Homo sapiens: one gene and its partners. The protein of the gene in region 1 interacts with the protein of each later gene in a biochemical or structural test. Each region holds a gene or a part of one and is shown in the gene's direction. Other genes may lie near its edges.

Region 1 (3,500 bases):
TATGGGCATCTTTAATTTGAAATAGATGTTTGCCTCATGAATATGAATATGGCCTTATTCCAGGATTTTAATACGCACTACAAAAAGCTTCATGTTAAAACTCATTGTTGAGCCAGGCATGGTGGCACATGCCTGTAGTCCCAGCTTCTTGGGAGGCTGGGGCGGGAGGATCACTTGAGCCTGGGAGGTCGAGGCTGCAGTGAGCTATGATCGTGCCACTGTACTCCAGCGTGGGTGACAGAGACCCTGTCTCTTAAAAATAAAACTACGTGTAACACACACACACATACTCCTCATCCATGCTTTTCTCTCATTCATTTAACCAGTTAGGCTTTTCTTACTAAGCTTAAATTTCCACTTTAGTATTATTTTTCCTGCTAGCCATATTTTTTATTGAGATATATTTTAGATAATAAAATTTGACATAACATAAAAGTCATTTTAAAGTGTACAAAGTGGTTTTTAGTATATTCACAAGCTTATAGAACTACCACCATTATCCAATTCCAGAGTGTTTTATCACCCCAAAAAGAAACCTGCACCCATTAGCAGTAACTGCCCGCTAGCTCCCAGCCCCTGACAACCATTAATTTGCTATCAATTTGCCTACTCCAGACATTTCATATAAATGGAATCATATAACACATGACTTTCTGTGCCTGCCTTCTTTCCCTCAGTGTATACTGTTTGCAAGGTTTGCCCATGTTCTAGCATGTGTTGGTACTTCATTTCTTTTTGTGGTCGAATAATCCAATGTATAGATGGACCACATTTTATTTGTTCATCAGTTGATGTACATTTAAGTTGTTTCCAATTATGAACAATGCTGCTGTGAATACATGTTTTCAATTTTCCTGGGTATATACCTAGGTATAGAATTGCTGAGTCATGTAATAGCTGAATTTTTTGAGGCACTGCCAGACTGTTCCATAGTGGCTGTGCCATTTCATATTCTCACCAACAGTGTATGAAACTTTCAGTTTCTCCATATCCTCACCAACATTTGTTATTTTCATTTTTAAAAAAAATTATAGCCATCCCAGTGGATGTGAAGTAGTATCTTGCAGTTTTTGACTTGCATTTCTCTAACAACTAATGATGTGTAGAATCTTTTTTGTGTTTATTGCCATTTGTATATCTTCTTTGGAGAAATGTTTGATCAAATTCTTTGCCCATTTTTCAGTTGGGTTATTTGTCTTTTTGTTGTTGAGTCGTAAGAATTCTTTTAATATTCTGTATACTAGATCCTTATCAAATATGTAATTTACAAATGTTTTTTCCCATTCTGTGGGTTGTCTTCTTACTTTCTTATATACACACATTTTTAATTTTGATGAAGCCTATTTTATCTATTTTTTCTTTATATTGTTTGTGGTTTTGGTGTCATTTTTAAGGAATCATTGCCTAGTCTGAGGCCAAGGACTATTCTCTCCCTATTGTTTGGTGCTGGCAAACTTGTCAAAAGTCAGTTGGCCATAGGTATATATGGGTTTATTTCTGGATTCTCAATTATTTTCCAGTGATCTGTATATCTTTACTATGCCAGTATCACACTGTCTGGATTACTGTTGTTTTGCAGTAAATCTTGAAATCGAGACCCCTAACTTCGTTTTATTTTCCCCCAAGATTATATTGGCTATTCTGGATCCCTTATGTTACCTTATGAATTTCAAGATCAGCTTGTCCATTTCTACAAAAAGTGCAGTTGAGATTTTGATAAGGATTGCACTGAATCTATAGATTGCTTTGGGGAGTATTGCCATCTCAGCAGTATTTTAAGTCTCCCACTCCATGAACATGGGATGTCTTTTCATCTATTTAGGTTGTCTTTTCTTTCAACTGTGTCTCATGGTTTTCAGTGTATGCATCTTCTACTACTTTCAATTTATTCCTAGTTTATTCTTTTTGATGCTATTATAAATGGAATTGGTTTTTAGTTTTTTAATTGAGACGGAGTCTTGCTCTGTCTCCTAGGCTGGAGTGCAGTGGTGCAATCTTGGCTCACTGCAACCTCCGCCTCCTGGGTTCCAGCAATTCTCCCACCTCAGCCTCCCAAGTAGCTGGGATTACAGGCGTGCGCCACCATGCCTGGCTAATTTTTTGTATTTTTAGTACAGACAGGGTTTCACCATGTTGACCAGGCTGGTCTTGAACTCCTGACCTCAAGTGATCTGCCTGCCTCGGCCTCCCAAAGTGCTGGGATTATAGGCGTGAGCCACCGTGCCTGGCAGAGTTGTTTTCTTAATTTCACTTTTTTCTGTTTTTTTGAGACAGGGTCTCTTGCTCAGGCTGGAGTGCAATGGTGCAGTCATAGCTCACTGCGGTATCAAATGATCCTCTCTCCTCAGCCTCCTGAGTAGCTGGCACTACAGGCGCTTGCCACCATGCTCAGCTAATTTTTGTATTTTTTGTAGAGATGGTGTTTCACTGTGTTGCCCAGATTGGTCTTGAACTCCTGGGCTCAAGTGACACTTTCACCTTGGCCTCCCAAAGTGCTGGGATTACACAGGCATGAGCCACCATGCCAGCCTGTTCCACTTTCTGATTGCTCGTTGCTAATGTATAGAAGTACAACTAAGTACCGCAGGGTGTGGTGGCTCACGCCTGTAATCCCAGCACTTTGGGAGCCCGAGGCGGGCGGATCACGAGGTCAGGAGATCGAGACCATCCTGGCTAACATGGTGAAACCCAGTCTCTACTAAAAATACAAAAACAAAATTAGCCGGGCGTGGTGGCAGGTGCCTGTAGTCCCAGCTACTCGGGAGGCTGAGGCGAGAGAATGGTGTGAACCCAGGAGGCGCAGCTTGCAGTGAGCCCTGATTGCGCCACTGCACTCCAGCCTGGGCGACAGAGCAAGACTCTGTCTCAAAAAAAAAAAAAAAAAAAGGTACAACTAATTATTGTATTTTGATTCTGTTTCCTATAACATTGCTAAATGTTTATTAGCTCTAATTTATTAGCTCAAATAGTTTTTGGGGGGATTCCTTAGAGTTTTTTGATATACTGTCATATCATCTATAAATACAGGCAGTTTTGCTTCTTCCTTTTCTTATTTGGCTGCCTTTTATTTCTTTTTTGTTTGTCTTTGTTTTTGCCTGATTCTTCTGGCTAGAATTTGTGGCAAGAACAAGCATCCTTGTCTTGTTACTGCCCTTATTGGGAAAGCTTCCAGTCTTTTACTGTTTAACTGTGATGTTAAAGAGTGATGGTGTTAGCTGTGAGCTTTTACTAGATGTCCTTTATCAGACTAAAGAGGTTCCCTTTTATTCTTAGTTTATTGAATTTTGTATCATGCAAGAGTGTTGTATTTTGTCAAAATGCTTTTTCTACTCTGTCAAAATAACTGCTTTTTTGTCTGTTAATATGGTGTATTGCACTGATGTTGAACCACCCTGGTGTTCTTAGGGTGAGTCCCACTTGGTCATGGTATATAATCCTTTTTCTATGTTGTTGGGTTTAGCTTGCCGGTATTTTCTCGAGTTTTGCATTTATATTCATAA
Region 2 (3,269 bases), on another chromosome or scaffold:
GCCCATGTGGGAGGCTCCAAACGCCATCCTGTAGACAAATAGGGCGGTTGGCAGGGCAGAGGCACCTGGGTAGACTCAGAGCACTCCACTTTCTCACCCTGAGACCAGAGCAAGTCATGGGACCGTATCCATAGCTTCAAATTGGGAACTTGCCCGCCCTGGAAAGGGTCGCTGTGCTAACTAAAAGTGTGGCAGGAGGGCAGGCACCTGGTGCCCAGCTGGCCAGGACCATGCTCCAGGCAGGATCTCCCTGCAAGAGGGCATCGCGGCAGCAGCGAGGTATACATCGAGTGCCAGGTTATACCCTGCACATTGCCAGGTGTCGGGATTATGCAGTGGAATCAGCAAACAGGTTAGACTGAGGCTTAGACAGGAGGACTGAGGCTTAGCTAAGGAAATGGAGCTCATGCCCACTAAGAACTATGGTAACTGTGCTGTGTTCCCTGGGCAGTGGGGGCTGCATGGCATTGATGGGACCGAAGCAGTGTGATCCTGCAGGGACATCTGAGACCCAGCAGCTGTGTTGTAGGAGTGAGAGGGTTAAGAGCTCCAAGTCATTCTTACGGCTCATACAGTCCCATGGGATTTTACTCCTAACCTTGGGGAGACCAGATCCAGGGACAAACCTGACAGTGGCCCAGATCCGAGAAGATTGTTCCACCCATACTGGCCTGGGGTGATTCCTAGGTCCACACCGCCTTTGGTCACTGTCCACCTTCATTTCAATGCATGAGGATGGAGCTCTGTGGCACACCCAGCTCTCTTCTGGGCAGGGTGGTCATCCTGCCCAGAAGAGATGGGGGCCTGTACATGGGCTGTGAAGAGCAGGCACATTTTAAGTAGGTAGCAGCATCCAGGGAAATCATTCTAGGAAGACAAATCCAGAAACAAGGGTCTTCCTGAGAGCAGCAGCTGTGGCTCACATCCATTGTGGCCAAAGGAGTCTTGGCTTTGTGACCTCGACCACACTTTTCTGGGCTCCACTTTCCCCATCTGGAAAATGAGAAGGGATAGGTACCCCCTTAGGGTCCCTTCCACTCAGGCCTTCCACGTGCTCCCCCCTCAACATACCCAGCACTGTGTCTTGCGTGCAGTAGGCACCCAGGTCGTGGCGAAATGGCACTCAGACTCCGCAAGGTCCCAGTCCTTCTACCACCTTGGCGACCACAGGGGACCTTGGTGCTGGTGGATCTGACTTGTCCCTGAAGCGCTGCTTCACTCACTCACTCACTCCTCCTGTTCTTCTTTCTGTCCCCAATGCTGTTACTCCACAGGAGGACTTCCGGAATAAAGTGGATGACTACATCAAACGTTATGCCAGATGATAAAAGGGGACGATTGCAGGCCCATGGACTGTGTTACAGTTTGTCTCTAACATGAAACAGCAAGAGGTAGCCCCCTCTCCCGTCCTCATGCTCCCTCTCAGTCCCCTGGATTGCCCCAGTCCTGTGACCATGTTGCCCTGAAGAAGACCATCTTCATGACTGCTCATTGTAGATGGAGAATTCAACATAAATACAGCAAGAAAATGTGTTTGGGCTTCTGAAGAGTTGTCTGCTTACCTTAACATGTTTACTTTTTTGAACTTGTACTGTATAGGCTGTTGGTGAAATTCTTAAGAAGTTGTAATGAACTCAAAATTGAGGCCAGAGCTTGCTTTCCCTTTTCCCAAACAAAATTGGTTTTCTGCACAAGCGATGCTAATGATGTGTTCAGTGTAACTCGCAGATTGGCAATAAGATACCCGCTACAAACTGTGATTGGATGCAAAATCTCTTAGCTTCTTTCACGAATGTTGGCCCTGCCTAGATGTTGTGAAGCCTCCCAGAATGCATAGAGTCATTCACTGTAGATCTCTTATTGAAATGCGTATTTTATTTAATGTAAGTATATTTTGGAACAGATTTGTAATTTGTACAATTCAATGCTTTAATTATTTTTTCTATTCTCATTTAGTTTGTATTTTCATTGTATAGAGCAGACAGAAAGATGTTGGGTCAAGCAACTATTGAAGAGAAATACAAAGAAAATATGAAAGGCACATTATTCATTTTGTCCAAATGCAATGAGAATCTCACTCTTAAAAATCAGCTCTTGCTTTCGGGTCCGGATGTGGTGAGCACATTTTGGAGCCCTTTGAAGCTAGATTTGGATGATCAAAACAAAAAGGCAGGGAGCCCATTCTAACATGCTGCCCAGAGGAAACTGGCTGGAGCCTGGACCAGCTGGGGTTGATGCTTTTGCAGTGGTCATGTGATTGTGACCTGGTAGCTACTTATCAGAGAGCCAGACCCTGCTGTCCTGGGAGACAGGAGCGATGCCTCAGGAATCAGCCCAATGTCTGATGTCACTGAGACTGTACCTGTGGCCTTCTTCTGAGTTTGCTATGGCTCCAGGCCCTGCCGGTGGGGTGAGCCTCCTAGGCCTTGGAGGACCAGGAGTCAACAGTGGCATATGCCATCCTCGGCCAGGTTAATATACTGCAGAGGAAAAGCCCTGAAGAGAGGCAAGTGGATTTACTCCAGCATGTAGACATTTGAACCAGTGAAATCAAACACAAAATAAATGTCTGTCTAGTTTCATTTGCTGCCTGCCTAACACTCTCAAACTTAACTGCCAGCTTCCTTAGACCTCTGGATTCCCCCATCTGCCATCTACTGGGTTTAGTTTGTTTTTCTTAATTTATAGAATCTCTGATTGTGAGATCAGTCTGTCACGGAGACCCAGCAGGTGAGGAATGTAGGCCTTGCTTCCTCTTTGCACCCATTAGACTTGAGGGTGGCCCCTGGCTAACAGGCCACACAGAGCAGGAAGGGTGAGATTGGTTAAAGAGAATGATGGCATCTCAGGAGCTCAGGGCTTGTCCAGGAGACACATTAATCCCCACCTCTCAGGGCCTGGGAGAGGGAGGTACTGCAGCTTCACACTTTTCCTCTGCCTAGTGTCAGAGGAACTTGCCAGCTGAGCACTAGGCTTCCTCTCTAGGCAGGGCAGGAGGCCAGCAGCTAATTCCTGCCCCCTCTGACCCAGGAAATGAGGTTCTCTGCTTGGTGCCAGTCCCAGGCCCAAGTCAGGGCACATCCCATAGTAGTTGTTCGGGCTCCCTGGAGTTCCCCAGCTGGTGGTGCAGGTGTTGATGCAGGACTTTTCAGAAGAGCGCTTCTGTGGGAGAAACGCCTGCTGTCCAGTGGAAACGTTTATGCAGTGTACATGAAAGACAGTGTGCCCTCTGGACCACACTGAAAGTGGTAATATCAGTTATTCTGACA
Region 3 (3,500 bases), on another chromosome or scaffold:
ACATTAGTTACAGACCTCGCTTTAGACTTAGATCTGTTACTATTTACATCACTTTGGCAAAGTCAGTTAACATTTACAGACCTTATCTAAGTTATAAGGTATTATATCTCTATGTAATCTCATTTGACTTGCTTCTAACCAAATTTTAATTAGTAATCACCAAGTAATCCTCCAGTTTCTAGGGGGGCTATACTGATATTTCTTTTTTATTTTTTATATTTTTTGAGACAGAGTCTCGCTCTGTCACCTACGCTGGAGTGCAGTGGCGCAATCTCGGCTCACTGCAACCTCTGCCACCTAGGTTAAGTGATTCTCCTGCCTCAGCCTCCTGCGTAGCTGGGATTACAGGCACCTGCCACCACGTCTGGCTAATTTTTGTAGTTTTAGTAGAGACAGGGTTTCACCATCTTGGCCAGGCTGGTCTTGAAATCCTGACCTCGTAATCCATCTGCCTCGGCCTCCCAAAGTGCTGAGATTACAGGCGTGAGCCACTGCTCCTAGCTTATGCTGATGTTTCTAGACATCCTCTAAAGCTTTCTCTTTGAATCACTAATGGCAACTTTGAGAGCAAGTATGTTTTCTTGATGCTTTAGAAAAATTTACAATATATTTACATCGTGGCTTTTAAAAAAACCGTTTGTCTTTTCCCTTAATTTTTTATTTTTTATTTTTTTTTGAGACAGGGCCTTGCTCTCTCCCAGGCTGGAGTACAATGGCGTGATCATGGCTCATTGCAGCCTCAAACTCCTGGGCTCAAGCAATGCTCCCACCTCAGTCTCCTGAGTAGCTGGGACCACAGACTGGCACCACCACACAAGGCTATTTTTTTTTTCCCTAGAGATGGGGTCTCCCTGTGTTGTGCAGGTTTGTCTGGAACTCTTGGGCTCAAGTGATAATCCCACCTCGGCCTCCCAAAGTGCCAAGATTACAGGCATGAGCCACCGCGCCTGGGCCTCTTAAATTTTCAAATCTGATTTTTGTTTTCTTTCAATCATATATAAGAATACATACTCATTTATGCATTTTAACACCTTTATTGTATATGTATGCCTTTTAAGTTATAAAATTAACACATTCTCATTTAAACAATTCTCCAAATATGTAAAGGAAGAGAAAGTGCCCTATAATTAATCACCCCCTTCACCTTTTAACACGAGTGCATTGTTAGTACTTATTTAAACCTAATAACACTTAACATGTTACACAAAAAAATTAAAAAGGGTTTTGGCTTCAGACCAGTATTAATGTCATCTTAGCAGCTTGGATCTCAGGCAGCAAGAATGTATTGACTTTATGTTGTGCTAGTAACCTAAATATGGTGCTGTCAAATTTACCTGAGCAGCCTTGGTCTAGTCTATGGTTTATAAAGCTGGAGGATTTTCATCCTTGAAAAAGGAAAATAGAGGCTTCTCTTGACTCTTAAGAATAATATCTCAAGATTATATTTTCAAAATCCCATAGTGGTAAACACATTTCTCATATTATTACAAAATTTGTTTTATTCTTATCCAGTCACAAAAGAGACCTAGTGATGATGTAATTACTATATTTTGGGAATCTGATAACATTTTGAAAAAATGATAATTGATGTATTGATTTATTAATGTTGCTAAGGGTGTAAAATAAGGAACAAGTTAAATGCCAGTAATTAATTTTTGGATGAATGATAGACACTAACTAATTGAAAGATTAAACTTCTGTTTCTACATTAAGGTGACATCAATGCTTGCTGTCTGTTTTAGAACCAAGATGATAAGGAAAATAGCTCTTTCTGGAAATGGAATGTAGTAATTTCCATAAGTCATTATTTTCAAAATACCTTTGTCTTTTTCAATAATTAAATTATATTTGAGTGTATTTCAAAAGGGTAATAAATGGCCTGTTTTATAGGTAAATATATTCCCCTTCTGATTACTGTATTGAACTTTGTGTTGGTTCTGATATTCCAGTAGATTAAGAAGCTCCAGCTGCCTTATGTTTTTTCATATTCATGCATTGTCAAAAATTTTATTCAGAGTAGGCTCTCAGTGAATTTTTTTTTTAATGGATTGGTTTGAGTTTTTGTACTAACTTGTGATTGATACTAATGGAGTATTTCTTTGCTGCTTTTTAAATTTTCTTAATTTCATATTGTAATCTGGTGTTCAAAGAATACTTCACAAATTTTAAATTTTAAATCCTGTAGCAAATATTTATACTTATCAAAGCTATGCCAAAATTCAAATTTAATTATTTGCAAAATATTATGGTGTGTTCATGGGTACCTTTAGCATGACGATTTATGTTTTATGTTGATATTATAACAAAATATGTTAATTATTTTTGTCTTTGAAGGTCCTGATGAAGTTGTAGGGCCAGAAGGAATGGAAAAATTTTGTGAAGACATTGGTGTTGAACCTGAAAATGTATGTTTTATTTCTAAGTAGAATGGCATATAAGTGGGGTATAGCATATTCGTAAATTACTAAAAATCGAGACACTTTAATCTTGTATGAAGATTTTATTTCTTCATGTTTAATATTGTAAATTTGCATTTAAGGTATTTTTAATCAGTTTAAGTTGGGCAAATGTATTCTTTCTTGATACAAATGTTATATGTAATAGAATAAGAGATTCTACCTTCAGAAACTGTTAGAACTTTTTACTTTTAAGAAATTGGCACATCTCAATTTCTTTGTATATAGTTAATAATTCCAGAGGTTGTACTCTTTAATAGTTGAAGGATGGAAGTAGTTGTGTAAAAATGCTCTCCATGATAAATATAGACATGATTATCTCTATGCTGACTTTTCCCCTATCCTTTATGTTCTGTTCTTTCCAGATTATTATGTTAGTTTTAGCGTGGAAATTGGAGGCTGAAAGCATGGGATTTTTTACCAAGGAAGAATGGTTAAAGGGAATGACTTCATTACAGTAAGAAATTTTTTTAAAAAACAAATTTGATGGCCTATTTGAAGATCTTAATTGATATTTTGTGCTTCATAATTTTCAGGAGTAAGGTTTCACCTTAAATCAAATCTGTTTGATCTATAACAATTAGTTTGGGGATTGAAAAAATTATATTGTGGTCTTGGGCAAATATATAGGTACCCCATGTTTTATATTCTCTAAGAAAGAACCTTAGTACAGTCCTATTAAAATTCCTTGATTCTCTTGGTGAGTGACTTAAAAGTCTATGATCAAAGACCTATTTATTTACAGGTTGTTTGAGTATAAGGATTTTCCTCTCTCAATACAGAATTCTACTATCGAAGGAGTATGTTCGTTGGGCAGCCCTAAGCTCTAGGGCCTCCTCTCCCTTCTTCACTTTAATATTTGACTTTAAAAATTTGAAGATAGAGTTACATAACCCTTTTATGATTTCTTTATTGCCAAGTGAATTTCATAAAGGACAAAAGTAGAAATGTTGTAACTGCTCCCGTGCAATCTTTACCCATTTTATAGTCCTACACTTTCAGTTTAGGATCCTGTCTTTGAACATTTTCATAAGTTATAGAATT
Region 4 (3,500 bases), on another chromosome or scaffold:
TATGATTTTAATTGGTATAGATGAAGAGCAAGGCCCTCAGGTATATAAGTGTGATCCTGCAGGTTACTACTGTGGGTTTAAAGCCACTGCAGCGGGAGTTAAACAAACTGAGTCAACCAGCTTCCTTGAAAAAAAAGTGAAGAAGAAATTTGATTGGACATTTGAACAGACAGTGGAAGTAAGTCAACCAAAAGGAGCTGACTTTTTTTATGCTATATAGAACAGTGAGGATCTTTGTATAATTTCTATACAAAGCTATTCCTGAATTACATCCCAGGATTCAAGTTGTCAACTTAATAATGAAATTGATATCATACAGCTGACATAGGAAAATTTGAGTTGCTTTTATTCACTTAATTCCTTATTTCGTAATGTATTTGAGGTGGCTTTCAACAAAACGCATATAATAGGAAAATATAAATAAAAATAGGAACCAGCTGGGCATGGTGGCACACACCTGTAGTCCCAGCTACTTGAGAGGCTGAAGCTGGAGGACTGCTTGAGTCTAGGTGTTCGAGGCCAGTCCTATTTACTGCCAAGAAATTAAAAACAAAAATTTTAGTAGATTTTGGGTGTAAGTCTGGAATTAAAGCCATTCTGAAGATGCTAACAACATGCTTCTGATAAGTGACCAAAAAAAAATTACCATCTAATGCTTTTACGTTTGGTTTGGAAGTATGCTTAAAGGAGATAAAAAGCTAGTTCATGTTCAGGAAGTACTGGGCCCTGTCTAAATATTTCTTAAAGGTTTCTTTTATTGCAATTCATAATTAATTACATAAATAACCACATCCGGTAAAAAAACACTTAAGGTGGCTCACACCTGTAATCCCAGCACTTTGGGAGGCAGACAGATCACCTGAGGTCAGGAGTTTGAGACCATCCTGGCCAACATGGCGAAACCCTGTCTCTATGAAAAATACAAAAATTAGCCGGGCATGGTGGCAGGCGCCTGTAATTCCAGCTACTCAGGAGACTGAGTCAGGAGACTCGCTTGAATCCACGAGCCTGAGGTTGCAGTGAGCCAGGCTGGCGCCACTGCACTCCAGACTGAGCGACAGAGTGAGACTCTGCCTCAAAAAACAGAAACAAAACAAACAAACAACACTTAAAACATTCTTAAATCGTTTTTACTGTAAATTCCTTGAAGATGCAGAGAGTATCATTCATCTTTATCCTTTTCCCATTTCACCCCAAGTGCTAAGTGAAGTGTAGTGCCTGGGTCATGAAGCCAATAAACCTTTTTGTATAAATCATCCTATTTTAATTAATGGACCCCTTTATTATTTGACTTGGTAGAAAAAAATTTCTCATCATTGGGAGGCAATACATTAGAGTTAAGCAGTCTGTTAGTAACATTGAACTACCTCATTGAAACATGGAGCTCCTGATTGACTCATGATTTGAATAAGCTAGGAATGAGAAAACCTTGGAATCTCTAAAAAATACTATATTTTAACATTAAATACTTTTTTTCAGACTGCAATTACATGCCTGTCTACTGTTCTATCAATTGATTTCAAACCTTCAGAAATAGAAGTTGGAGTAGTGACAGTTGAAAATCCTAAATTCAGGTGAGTGATATTGTGGGCCACATGCAGACTAGAAAGGTGGAGGCGTGTGAGTCCATGTGTCCTATAACTTGTGGGGGAAATCTTTTTTCTTTAACTGTCATTATAGTTTTTGTTTGTGTGTTTGTTTTTTTCCCCAGCACCTGAGATCTGTTTTTAAAACTTTGGACTCTATTTAAGAGTCAGATATGAAAGCTTTTCTCCTTATTTCAGAGTGATTTTATATCTAACACCAGAGATGACATAAAGTTACCTTCCTTATGTAAGGAAAAAAATTAGCATAAGTGTTTTCTTTTTTTTAGTTTAAGGCCAATACAAATTCAATTCCCAAAGTAGTAGTTTGCAAGTTTTTCAGATAGAACTTTGGTTATTTAGTGGTTATTTAAGTAGAACTTTGAGGAGCAATATGAGTTACTGATATATGTCAGACCCTTATCTAGAGATCTTTGGAAAGCCCAAATTTTGAATACAGCTAATTGACTTGCAGTTGCTGGATGTGTGTGTGTGTGTGTGTGTGTGTGTGTGTGTGTGTTCTTACTCACTAAGTGACTAACTCCCACACATCAGCCTTATAGCTTCCATGATTCAAATCCATACTGAGTGCTTCGTATAATCAGCTCATTTAATCCTCCCAGCAGCCCTGTGAGGCAGTTGATATACCATGGACCAGGATGCTCTTATCTTTAATGAAAATACTGCAGTTAAATCGACAGATACAAGGAACTACTGGGAGGCATTTTAACTATTATGTGTATCTATTCTTAGATCACAACCATAAAGACACATGGTCTTGGTTGTGGTGTGGGGTACGGGAGTGGTAAACTAAGCTTAACTAGACCTTGAAGAGGTTTTTCGTTTGTTCTTTTTTTTCCTAATTTGTTCTTTTGGTTGCCCACAGATAAGTCATATAAACATGACAGATTCAGAAAAATTCATAGGACTTTAAAAAAAAAAAAACAGCTGGGTGCTGTGGCATGCATCTGTAGTCTCAGCTCCTCAGGAGGCTGAGGCAAGAGGATGGCTTGAGCCTTGGAGTTGAAAGCTGTAGTGCGCAATGATAGTGCCTGTGAATAGCCACTGCACTCTAGCCTGGGTAACATAGTGAGACCTCATCTGTTAAAAAAACAACCGACAACACCAAAAGCGAATCTATCCTAGCTTTTCTTCCCGTAGGAAGAAGTCTTGTAACTTGGGTTGGGGTAGGGGTGAGGGGTGGGGGCAGGGATCAAGTTGCTTTTGAAAAAGGTGCCTTTTTTTTTTTTAAGTAAAAATTTCAGCAAGAATAATCTTAAAATCTCTCTAAGGAACCTACAATTAGTTCTTGTTTTCTTTTCTGTTTGGAGACCTTCCTGCCACCTTTAAAATTGTATTTGTTATTTTTTAAATTGGTAAGGAATCAAAAATCTTGTCTTCAAAAAACTTTGTATCATTTATAAATTCTGTGATAGTAAATATATGTAAATAATTACAGTACATAGCATAAGCATCAACAACTATTTAAACTGCTTGATATTGCCTTCAGTTGCACTAAAAAATGTCCTTTTGACAAATTTCACTTTTTAGAAGTCTAGTAGTAATAGGTCACATTAACAAGGTTGCCAAACAATTGCTTCCTTTCGAGGCAAACATCATTTAGAAAATACATGTTCAGGGCCACACATGGTGGCTCACACCTGTAATCCCAGCACTTTGGGAGGCCAAAGTGGACAGATCACTTGAGGTCAGGAGTTTGAGACCAGCCTGGCCAACATGGTGAAACCCCATCTCTACTAAAAATACAAAAATTAGCCAGATGTGGTGGTGGACGCCTGTAATCCCAGCTGCTTGGGAGGCTGAGGCAGGAGAATTGCTTGAGCCTGGGAGGCGGAGGTTGCAGTGAGCCAAGATTGTGCCACTGCACTCCAGCCTGGGCGACAGGGTCAGACTCCA
Region 5 (3,500 bases), on another chromosome or scaffold:
AAGGCAGCTCTCTGGGCCCCTTTTTTTTTTAAAAAGGATGCCAATTCCATTCACCTCCTAAAGGCTCCACATCCTAATACTGTCACATTGGTTATTAAGTTTTAACATACACATTTTAGGGGGACACAAACATTTATATCCTGCTAGAAGTTAAGATGATTTTCTGTTCCTTTGAGGGTCTTGAGGAGTAAGAAGCCAATCAAGTCAAGGGGCTCTAGACCCAGCAAATAGATTTTTTGTTTTGTTTTGTTTTGAGAGAGGGTCTCACTCCATCACCCAGGCTGGAGTGCAGTGGCACGATCTCGCACTGTAACCTTTGCTTCTCAGGTTCAAGTGATTCTTGTGCCTCTTGAGTAGCTGGGATTACAGGCGTGTGCCACCACGCCTGGCTAATTTTTATTTATTTATTTATTTGTTTATTTATTTATGTATTTATTTTTAATAGAGACAGCATTTCACCTTGTTGGCCAGGCTGGTCTTGAACTCCTGGCCTCAAGTAATCCACCTGCCTCGGCCCTCCCTAAGTGCTGGGATTACAGGTGAGAAGCACCATGGCCAGCCAGATTTTCTTTTTTGCTGCGGGGTGGTTTGGAGGGGGAAATATTTTATTGGTATTCCATACCTTTCTTTTTTTCCTCCAAACATCTATAGAATTACACTTAACACATCATTAATAATAAATATTTCCAAAAAGAGCAGGTAAGCTCACAGAGATTAAGTATGTGTAAAATACATACTGTTTCGATAAAGATTAATTATGTATTGTTATTTTAGAGAAAAGGTGGATAATACCTACTTTCCAATGTATTTTTAGCGTGACACATTTCAAACATAAAAGTATAGAGAATACAGCAGTGAATACCTATATAGCTACAATCCAGTTAAATCAAAATTAGTATTTTGTTTTTCTTCATTAAGAGATAAAACATGACACATATATTTGAAGCTCCTTGGTTCCCTGCTCCTTCCCATTCCCCATCTTTCTTTTCAGAAATAACCATTTATCTTAACCTGATTTAAATCAATAGTAGTTTGTTTCTGTCTTTAGCAAAGGACTTTTTGCCATTCGTAAATTACTTAATTAGCTAATTAATCTGTCATTTTATTATTTTTTTCTTAAGCATTTGTGTTTGTTAATTATACTTCTTTTACAAGTGTATATGTCATGAACTTAGAAAACAAAAGTGAATTACTGATTAACACATGTTTAGTGAGTATTTAGTCTTTTTGTTTTATACCTTGCCCAGTACCATTTCCCTCTACAGGGCGGAGGTTCATTTGTTTAAATAATGCAAAGATGTGACCTATTTGCTTCCCATATATTGTTTACTGTGTATTAGTACTAAATTATATAAGTAACCTACAAAGTCAGCCTTTTATTCTTCATTTAGGGTGTTAAGTAAAAGATTAAAAATGCACTGATGAAGCATGGGTTGAAACTTCTCAATATAGTCTGAGGCACCTTAGCAACAATTATTATGAAATTGTCATCAAAGCGTGTCTTCATGCTTATAGTCATTCTTCACACATATTGAGTACCCACTATGTGCTAGTTCTACTACTAAATTCTAGGTAATTAACTGTAAAGCAGACATGGGTTCTCTCCTTGTATTTGCCAGTCACTAGAAACTAGTGACAATACTGTGGAACTATAAGGCATGAAATGATTGGCTTATTTACTTGCTTACAGTAGGTAGGCCTTAATTCTATTAACTCTTTGTGTCACTTAACAGCTTTAACTGTGGAGAAAATTGGCATGATCCTGTTAAATGTAAGGTGAGTTTGTCTGACATTTCAATTTTTAAATAATGGCACACTTCTAAGACTTAGTGACTAAAAATCATAGCTGATGATTTTGTTATCTATCTATTGATAGATTTTTTTTTATCCTTTTAATTTCAGATGATCATTACATGTATTCAGAGGTAATTCCTTAGGATAAGCCAAGTCAGCTCCTGATTGTTATTAGGATAACCATGGCTAAGGCACCTCTTTGTCAGGCTTTGTAATTAGGGGAATACACACCTTGCAGTTGGGCTTCTCTTCAAGCTCTAGGTTCCCCACTCAGCTTCTGCCAAAGAAAATCCTGCTTTGGTTGATTTTATATATACTGGACATTGTAGCTATGGGATTTCCCTGGCTTAAGAGGATGTGAGCCTAGTGATAATCTTATTCATTGGCTTTTACATTTAAGCTTGACTATAGTTAAGTGCTAAAGTAATTTGCTATTTTTAAAAGTCTTTTGTTGTATCCTAACCGTTGTTATTTTCAAACAGTGGTTAAAGAAATGGATTAAAAAGTGTGATGATGACAGTGAAACCTCCAATTGGATTGCAGCCAACACAAAGGTTGGTGTTTTCCTTCAGTAACTCTTGGTAATAAAAATGATAAGGATTGGTACTTTGGCATTAGCAAAAGCAATGAGGTGACCTACTTACAGGCTTTGTTTCATCTTTTTCTCCATTGAGTCTTTTTTTTTTTTTCCCAGAATGTTTGCCTGTTATTTCCTTTTTCTCTTTGAGTTTATTTTAGAGTATTGAGTACTGTAGTACAGCATCCACAGTTCTCTGCCTTAGGTTTCTTCTACTGGAAAAAAAATTAGTGTTCTGTAGAGGAAAAAGCTGATAATTTTTCAAGTGTGGGATTTGTGCTTGGCTGCCATTTAGTATACAAATGCATTGGAGTTTACTCCGCCTAGCTTGGTTCTGTTAGGCTAATTTACATTTTTGTTTCTAATTTTTTGTTTTGAAGTACATTGCTCTTGATACTAGTTTCAAAATTCAATTTCAAAATTCACTTTCTTAACCCCAGACAAATGTCTTAGAAGTGTTTAAATCTTGAGTACCCTTCTCCTCGATCACTAATCTAATGAGCAAGCATTTGAATGCCAACCGTGTACCCAGCTAGTCTTTTAATACAAAGTCGTATTATCCATCCTTTATGTAATTCAGTCCTATCCTATCCCCATAGTGAGTGACTTGGGTAATGAATGGTAGGTTGGTTCATGGGCTATTCATTTTTAGTATTATTTTGTACATGTAAAGATGATGCTTTAAAGAATGCTGAGTTGTTTGACCCATAGTATATAAAGCTATCTTTGAACTGTTGCCTCAGTCATCACAGGACAATGAGATTAAGAAGTGTGTAAACAATGAAGGCCGACGCAGGTTGTCTGTGTGTGTTTAAATATACATCTTACATACTTATATATAAAACATGAATTTATATTTCTGTCTCCCAGAAAGTAGTGAAACAGTGAATCTTGCCACATAAAACAAATGCCCAAGTCTTTAAGGAATATATGGTAGAAATTAATATTTTTTGTTCCCTCCAAAACCATCACGATAAGCATAACTCACGTCAATCAAAGAAAACCTTACTATAAATATACTGTAATGTCAGAAAGTGGTTACTTGTTTTGTTATTAAAAAAAAATTCTTAGCCAAGCATTCTTTTTTTGAAAATTGAAGATTTTCCCACAAGAAATGTTCCTTAAGTCC
Region 6 (2,583 bases), about 19 Mb from region 1:
AGGAGAATTGGGAGGTGGAGGTTGCAGTGAGCCGAGATCGCACTACTACACTCCAGCGTGGGCAACAGAGTGAGACTCCCTTTCAAAAAAAAAAAAAAAAGAAAAAAGTGTATACTATTTTTTCAACTCAGGTTTCTTTCAACTTTGTCACTCTATTAACTAAATTTCCCTCAGTCATTAGTAAGAGTTCAAACTTTTTCCTCCTGGAACTTATTGAAACATCCTCAAAGAGGATAGATTTTTAAAAAACTGTGAAAGTGGGCCGGGCGCAGTGGCTCACGCCTGTAATCCCAGCACTTTGGGAGGCCGAGGCAGGCAGATCATGAGGTCAGGAGATCAAGACCATCCTGGCCAACATGGTGAAACTCCATCTCTACTAAAAATACAAAAATTAGCTGGGCGTGGTGGCATATGCCTGTAATCCCAGCTACTCAGGAGGCTGAGGCAGGAGAATCGCTTGAACCAGGGAGTCAAGAGGTTGCAGTGAGCTGAAATGGCACCACAGCACTCCAGCCTGGCGACAGAGCGAGACCTGTCTCAAAAAAAAAAAAAAAAAAAAAAAAAACCTGTGAAAGCGTCATATGAGAAACTGGAGGTAACTGTGGATCATCTTGCTAGACATTCTTTGTACTCTCACTGAGACCCTTTCTGCGTGGAATACTTGCTCTTCATTGTGACTCTCAAAGGCAGACAGAACCAAGTGTTCTGATTCACCAAGAGCTTTTGTCTCCTAATGAATTACTTTGTCTCCCTTTACCACCATTTCTCAGAATCTCAGAGTACTTCATTGGCATGATCAGATGGCACTGCGATTCTTCCTATTATTAGCACTGCTGGCTAAAACATAAAAGCGGTGAAGACCAAGGCCAGAGCTTAAACTCATAGGGGTCATTCAACTCTGTTTTTATTAGTTGTCCTTGGTTTATACTGTTAACCTCAGCTAGGCATCACATTAAGTATAAGTACTTATTCACAATAAATAATGAACTAGGGCCAATTCAGCATCATGAATGAAAAACCAGTGCAGGCCGGGCGTGGTGGCTCACGCCTGTAATCCCAGCACTTTGGGAGGCCGAGGCAGGCGGATCACGAGGTCAGGAGATCAAGACCATCCTGGCTAACACGGTGAGACCCCCATCTCTACTAAAAATACAAAAAATTAGCCAGGAGTGGTGGCGGGTGCCTGTAGTCCCAGCTACTGGGTGAGGCAGGAGAATGGCGTGAACCCGGGAGGCAGAGCTTGCAGTGAGCCGAGATTGCGCCACTGCACTCCAGCCTGGGTGACAGAGTGAGACTCCGTCTCAAAAAAAAAAAAAAAAAGAAAAACCAGTGCAAAACATGTGCTGTACTAACGGCAAGTCAGAAGTGTCATCCTCAAGTACAAAGATGAGGACAGATACAGATGCCTGAAGGGAGGATATGAGCCGTGTCTTAGAGGCTCAGAGTGTGTTAACAGGAGTCTGACAGTAGAACGTTGGCCCCTCGATCTTTAGTCTGACTTTAGGTATACATTATGTATAGCATACTACAAAATGAATTTTTACTTAGTCCTAGACATATCCAGATCATTGTGGGACAAATGATCTATCCTTTGTCTCTATAAAAGAACGTAATCACTAATAATAAGCTTTTCTACCTACAGAGTCTCTCTGAGAAATCAAGGAAAGTATTCCGAATATTTCGGCAGTGGGAATCTCTGTGCTCATGCTGAAGATACTCCAGCGCCTTCCTGGAGATAGCTGGAATGAGAGTGACTTTTTGAAAAATTAAGGCTGAGTTCCTTTCGGTCAGCTGACACTAAGTTTTTCCTGTTCTGGGTTAATCATAAGGAGCCCCCTGCCATAGCAAAGGCAGTGAGTGTCAACTATCTGCATCTGGCTGAGAGAGACCCGTTTCCTTTCAGGGATGTGGACAGGGTAAGGGCAGCAAGCATGGTTCTGTTAAAGGAGTGTGGGATTAACAGACTAGAAGGAAGACTAAGGACCTGACCACCCATTTCAGCATCTTCAATGTGGAGCAGTGTTCTGAGGACTCTTCTATCCTAGGACTATGACAGTGTGTATTAATAAAATATTTGCTAAGATTCTCATTGTTGGAGAACTGTTTTCCCCCTTGCCCTGTGGGCCGGAGAAACTTCAGTGGAACATTCAACTTTTGATTTTCAGATTGGCTGCAAAGCCTAAAATTTGTGATTCCAGTCAAGGAGGTATAATCTTTCCTAAACCAAAAGCAAGATGATTTTCATTATGCCACCAGGAAATTTCCTGGTGTGTTATAGTGAATGGTCAACTGATAATTTTCTCCTTGCTTTGATAATAACAGAATAAAACAATGTAATGGGGAGGAAGGCACTTCAGAAGAGACCCCTCTCCATGTGCCATTGAATGCATGAGTCCCCCAGTTGGGCTTCCCCAAGACTCGTTGCTTTTGGGGGATCATCAGTTTTTGTGGTAGAGAAGGTGGACCCTGAACTGCCCACTGATAAAGTAACCATGACCTAGCAAAGGCTAGAAAGTGATTATTCTCTGATATGCCATGTTTTTCGTCACTGAGATTGTTTTGTTTTATACTTTTGTACTGAAG
Region 7 (4,194 bases), on another chromosome or scaffold:
TGTGTCCTGATTTAAAATCTAAATTTCAGAGCCTGGAAACCCAAAAGCCTGGGCTGTAGAAATCTAAAACCAAAAAGACCGTGCGTTCTGTTACCTGTGATTTGTGGTGTCACCTACTCTTTGAGGCTCCCAGATGGCCCAGGGCCTTAGGATATGGGGATGCCTTGTAGGTGTGTTGTTGTTGGAGTTGGTGGCTGGGATGAGGGTGGAGGCAGGGTAGGGTGGGGGTGGGTTGGGGTGGGGGGAATCCTCCGTTAATATCTCGAAATATTGTTCTGTTACCATAATGCGGTGTGATAAGTTAGCTTCAAGTATTGAAAAATCAGGGCAGGACTCATGGAAATGGTGCGAATTCTTGACTTAGGGTCAGAAGAATTCACCAAAATTAACGTCTCCCTCTGCCAAATAACAGCCAGTTTCAATTTCTGGACGGCCTCTCCGCGGGAGTGACAGGTTTTCTTAGATGCCGCCGGGGGTCTTTCACGGGCTGGTGGTCTGCCCCCTGGACTCGTCCATGTGTTAGGCTCAGTCCGCAGCTCAGAGCGCGGCCCTGTATTTCTGTCTGATGTCTGGGGCATACAGATGTGTGTGACGGACAATGCTCGTGGCATTCGAAGCCTCTTTAACAGACATTAGTGACTAGAGGAAAGAAGTGTGCGAACTCTGCGAAACAAGTATGCGGACTCTGGAAAAGAAGTACATTTCGAAAGTGGGGAGAGGATGGATCTTCGTAGGAGAAATGGAAATTTGCTCCCCACCAGAAGGTTTGCTGGAAATTAAGACGCGGCAATTCTTAATCCAGTTTCCTGCGGTAGGAAGCAGCTGACAAGAGAAGTCCCAGTCCGAGTTCGGCGCGAACTGGACAAGTGTCGTGGGACAAGTGGCGGGAGACCCGGCCGCGTCGCGCCGGGCGCTAGGGACGGACGCATTTCCCTACTTCCAGCAGCTGGTACGAGCCGCCCCCAACTGCGCTGCGCTGCTCTATTCTTTGGGAAACACTTCGCGTGCTTTGTTTCAGACGCCGACCCATCTTTCTTGGTGGGTCTCCAGCTCCACCAATCCCGCCCGCCACTGGGCGGGGTTTCAGGGTCAAGGTGGACCAATTTCCCAGCTTCGCCCCTACACGCGCTCTCGGACCCCTGGGGGTGACTGACAGCAGCCGGGCCCAACCCGCTGCTCCGGAGCATGGCCTCCGCCAGGGGCGTTACGGAGACAAGGCCCCAGGACCAATCGTATTGGCCAGTGGGGGGCGGGGCCTCGTTGCCAGCTCCAGACCGGCGCTATGGGCACTCCTTTTGTCAAATGAGAGACGCAGCAGGGCGGCCCCTGAGCCGCGGTTTAGCCAATGGAGAAGGCGAGATGGGCGGGCTGGGAGTGCCCGGCGGCGGGTCCTCAGCTTCGAGCCGAGGTGCAGTGAGCTGGTGGGGGGACCGCGAGGCGAGCGCGGGAGCCTGGGCGGCGAGCCGGGTGTGAGCTGCCTGAAAATGCACTCGGATGCCGCCGCTGTCAGTGAGTAGCAGAGAGCCAGCCAGCGGGCCGGGGCCGGGCGGCTGCCAAACTCGCCACTCGGCTCCCGCAGTCCCCGCCCCACGCCTCGGGTCCCGAAACGCGCCGGGAGCCCCTGCCTGGGAACCACCCCTTCCCCTCCCGGGGCCGGGGCGGGCGGTGACGCTGCGGGCGGCGTGGGGCGGGGGCGGGCGTGGGGGGAAGGGACCGGCCTGCGGGGAGGGCGGAGGTGAGGGGGGTGGGGACTGGCTCTCTTTCAGTGTTGGGGGAAGGGAGGGCTGGACGTGCGATGAAGGGCCGAGATCGGAGTGTCCGGGGTGCATGGAGGTGGAGGCAGCGTTGGGCTGTAGCGGGCAGGGCCGGGGATGTGGGGGGGTGGCACCGGCGGGGAGAGGGAGGGAGCGAGCGAGCGAGCGGGGCACAAGGGTGAGGATTTCCAAAGGGCTGAGTGGTGCGGGCGGCTCCGTGAGAAAGGCGGGTGAGTGCGAGGGGGGCGCGGGGGCGGGGACAATGGGAAGAAGGGCTGGTTGGCGGGGGGGTGGGGGGGGGGCGGCGAACAATGGGGTGGGGGAATGGGGGCAGCGGCCGAGCGGGGCAGGAGGGCGGGCGACTGGACGAGGGCTGATGTAACGGGAAAGCGAGGTGGTGGGAGGGACTGGGGTGTAATGGTAGTTGGGGAGTCCTGCGGGGCGGGAGGGGCGTTGGAAGGGCGGTGGGTAACGGAGAGTGGTGGGAGTGGAAGATGTTGGGGTAAAGAGATGGGGCAGGTGTGGAAGGGTAGGGCGATTGGGAGGAAGAGGAGAAAAAGGTGGGTAGGATTTGGGGTGGCAGAGTGGGGGCAGGGGTGGAGAATATGAAATGGGGGTGAGGAGCTAGTCGGGGAGGAAGGGGAGGTGGGGCGGAGTTGGGCAGGAGGACTGTCACGTCCAGATTCGGTCCGGAGCCGGGCTAAGGGGGTGTCAGACTGTGCTTAGGGGAGGTACTTCCTCTCCCTGTCGAGGCAGGGTCCCTTGAAGGGGGGAGTCCAAGCTTCGGGGTGCGGAGAGAGGAGGGGGCGGGGCTGAGGTGGAGGAGACGGGGTAAGTGCCCTAAGGTTGGAACTGGCCGTGGTTCCCCCCGGACGGCGGGAAGCGAGGTCAGCGCTGGCGCGGGCTCCGGCAGCGGGACTAGGAGGCGGGGCAGGGGTGCGGGCTGCGGGGTTTCAGCAGCGGGAGCCGGAGGGGTCGGGCCCTGATGGCCGGGTCGGGGGCTTGGCGCCGGGGAGGTGTCGGGGTCCCTGGCAGTCCGTGGGTTTGATAGTCTGTGACGCAGTTGTCTAATTTCTGGCTATCAGGTGTGGGGGTTGGTGCCATGGAACCCGCTTCCTTAGAGGGATGGCCGGGCCCTAGGCCGCGCCCCACGCCCGGGGGGCGCGACTTCTCCCAGGCGTGCTGGGAGGGCGCTTGAGGGGTTTCCTTTAGGGTTTGTCTCCAGTCAACGGGTATGAAGGGGAAAGGCGGTCCCGCCGAATTCTGGGACTTGTAGTCGCGGCCGCGCCCGGCCGCGGTTGGGTTGGGTGCACGTGGGTAACTGTGGAAACGGGTCCCGGCATGCAGCGCGCCCTTGGAGCCTTCCTGCTCGGCCAACTCGTGCTTTATTCCCCGGCCAGCTCCTGCGCGCTCTCGGGAGGCGGTTGAGTTCCCAGGGACGGAGCGACTCCCCAGCCCTTCTCCCTTGGGAGAGGGAGAGCCCACGCCAGGCGCAGCCCTCTTCACGCTTAGGTTCTTGGTCCCCAAGTGAATTTCCCCCTGCATTTTGTGGCCTTACTTGTGGAATAAATGCTTGGTCTTGTACCATCATGCGCACGGGTTGTGGGAAAACATTTAAGAAGCAACACAATGTAAAGCAGCCTTTAGAATGGTGTATTTAATTTTGGCATCCAGTGTGTGTAAGCACTGGGTTCCAGCATTCCCTTGCATAAATATGAGAACACAGTGGAGGTACACGTAACCCTTGTAACGATAATATAAACTATGTGTTGGTATTTCTTGGGGTGTTTGAAAAAATAACTGTCTTGAAATGAGTGATGGAGGTGGGTTAGTGGAATTTAGGGTGGAAATGTGAAGGTGAGCAAAGGTAATATGTGACGTCTTCAATTTTCGAAGAAGCTTGGAAAGCAAATGAGAATAGAAGAAAACTGTAAAAAGTGGAGAACCATAAGACTTTTTTTGTTTGCTTGTTTTATTATTAGCTGCAGGCTGCAATTCCTTCTCTCCTTAATACTAGAAACCTTCCTCTCCATAAGTAGACTCCCTAAACGTCACATCCTTCACCAGTTCCCTTTACTGTTTACAGGGAAGGGACTCCAGAATCTGTAATGTAGAAGGCTAAGATTAATGCAGAGATGATAGATTTTTGTATGTAATATATAAGGTATTATGAAACTACTTGCAACATAGTCATTAGAAGAATATTGTAATTTTTCTGATGATAAAAATATTACCAAGAAGTCCTAAGATTTGTAAACCTTTTGGTGTGGTTACAAACATACTGAACTTGGATACTTGATTGTTTGATGGTTCTTTTCATGATGAGTGAAAAATTGGGCAATGTGTGTGGTGTTCTTGTGGAGATCATTTATATCTATCTGTCATATTTTACTTAATCGTGTGGTGAAATATCCAGGAAACTCTTGGTAATATAAAAATA

The links.
Region 2: of the proteins of CUL1 (region 1) and UBE2F, one has a biochemical effect on the other in vitro, tested with the Homo sapiens proteins (one study listed by BioGRID).
Region 3: the proteins of CUL1 (region 1) and DCUN1D5 form a complex in vitro, tested with the Homo sapiens proteins (one study listed by BioGRID).
Region 4: the proteins of CUL1 (region 1) and PSMA6 form a complex in vitro, tested with the Homo sapiens proteins (one study listed by BioGRID).
Region 5: the proteins of CUL1 (region 1) and ARIH1 form a complex in vitro, tested with the Homo sapiens proteins (one study listed by BioGRID).
Region 6: the proteins of CUL1 (region 1) and ZC3HC1 form a complex in vitro, tested with the Homo sapiens proteins (one study listed by BioGRID).
Region 7: the proteins of CUL1 (region 1) and DCUN1D4 are reported together in a solved structure, tested with the Homo sapiens proteins (2 studies listed by BioGRID, with this or other methods).

What each region holds. Positions count from the first base shown.
Region 1 is NC_000007.14:148,792,903-148,796,402, forward strand, and holds part of CUL1 (cullin-1), read left to right. Parts: intron 1-3,500. UniProt on the Homo sapiens protein: Core component of multiple cullin-RING-based SCF (SKP1-CUL1-F-box protein) E3 ubiquitin-protein ligase complexes, which mediate the ubiquitination of proteins involved in cell cycle progression, signal transduction and transcription.
Region 2 is NC_000002.12:238,040,014-238,043,282, forward strand, and holds the end of UBE2F (NEDD8-conjugating enzyme UBE2F), read left to right. Parts: intron 1-1,274; coding exon 1,275-1,325; 3' UTR 1,326-2,769; downstream 2,770-3,269. UniProt on the Homo sapiens protein: Accepts the ubiquitin-like protein NEDD8 from the UBA3-NAE1 E1 complex and catalyzes its covalent attachment to other proteins. Together with the E3 ubiquitin ligase RNF7/RBX2, specifically neddylates cullin-5 (CUL5).
Region 3 is NC_000011.10:103,082,161-103,085,660, reverse strand, and holds part of DCUN1D5 (DCN1-like protein 5), read left to right. Parts: intron 1-2,334; coding exon 2,335-2,405; intron 2,406-2,821; coding exon 2,822-2,913; intron 2,914-3,500. UniProt on the Homo sapiens protein: Contributes to the neddylation of all cullins by transferring NEDD8 from N-terminally acetylated NEDD8-conjugating E2s enzyme to different cullin C-terminal domain-RBX complexes which is necessary for the activation of cullin-RING E3 ubiquitin ligases (CRLs).
Region 4 is NC_000014.9:35,312,882-35,316,381, forward strand, and holds part of PSMA6 (proteasome subunit alpha type-6), read left to right. Parts: coding exon 1-178; intron 179-1,479; coding exon 1,480-1,574; intron 1,575-3,500. UniProt on the Homo sapiens protein: Component of the 20S core proteasome complex involved in the proteolytic degradation of most intracellular proteins. This complex plays numerous essential roles within the cell by associating with different regulatory particles.
Region 5 is NC_000015.10:72,564,830-72,568,329, forward strand, and holds part of ARIH1 (E3 ubiquitin-protein ligase ARIH1), read left to right. Parts: intron 1-1,733; coding exon 1,734-1,776; intron 1,777-2,276; coding exon 2,277-2,348; intron 2,349-3,500. UniProt on the Homo sapiens protein: E3 ubiquitin-protein ligase, which catalyzes ubiquitination of target proteins together with ubiquitin-conjugating enzyme E2 UBE2L3.
Region 6 is NC_000007.14:130,017,792-130,020,374, reverse strand, and holds the end of ZC3HC1 (zinc finger C3HC-type protein 1), read left to right. Parts: intron 1-1,642; coding exon 1,643-1,711; 3' UTR 1,712-2,083; downstream 2,084-2,583. UniProt on the Homo sapiens protein: Required for proper positioning of a substantial amount of TPR at the nuclear basket (NB) through interaction with TPR.
Region 7 is NC_000004.12:51,841,759-51,845,952, forward strand, and holds the start of DCUN1D4 (DCN1-like protein 4), read left to right. Parts: upstream 1-1,394; 5' UTR 1,395-1,484; coding exon 1,485-1,509; intron 1,510-1,813; exon of another isoform or gene 1,814-1,827; coding exon of another isoform or gene 1,828-1,984; intron 1,985-2,242; exon of another isoform or gene 2,243-2,314; intron 2,315-2,485; exon of another isoform or gene 2,486-2,585; intron 2,586-2,613; exon of another isoform or gene 2,614-2,641; intron 2,642-4,194. UniProt on the Homo sapiens protein: Contributes to the neddylation of all cullins by transferring NEDD8 from N-terminally acetylated NEDD8-conjugating E2s enzyme to different cullin C-terminal domain-RBX complexes which are necessary for the activation of cullin-RING E3 ubiquitin ligases (CRLs).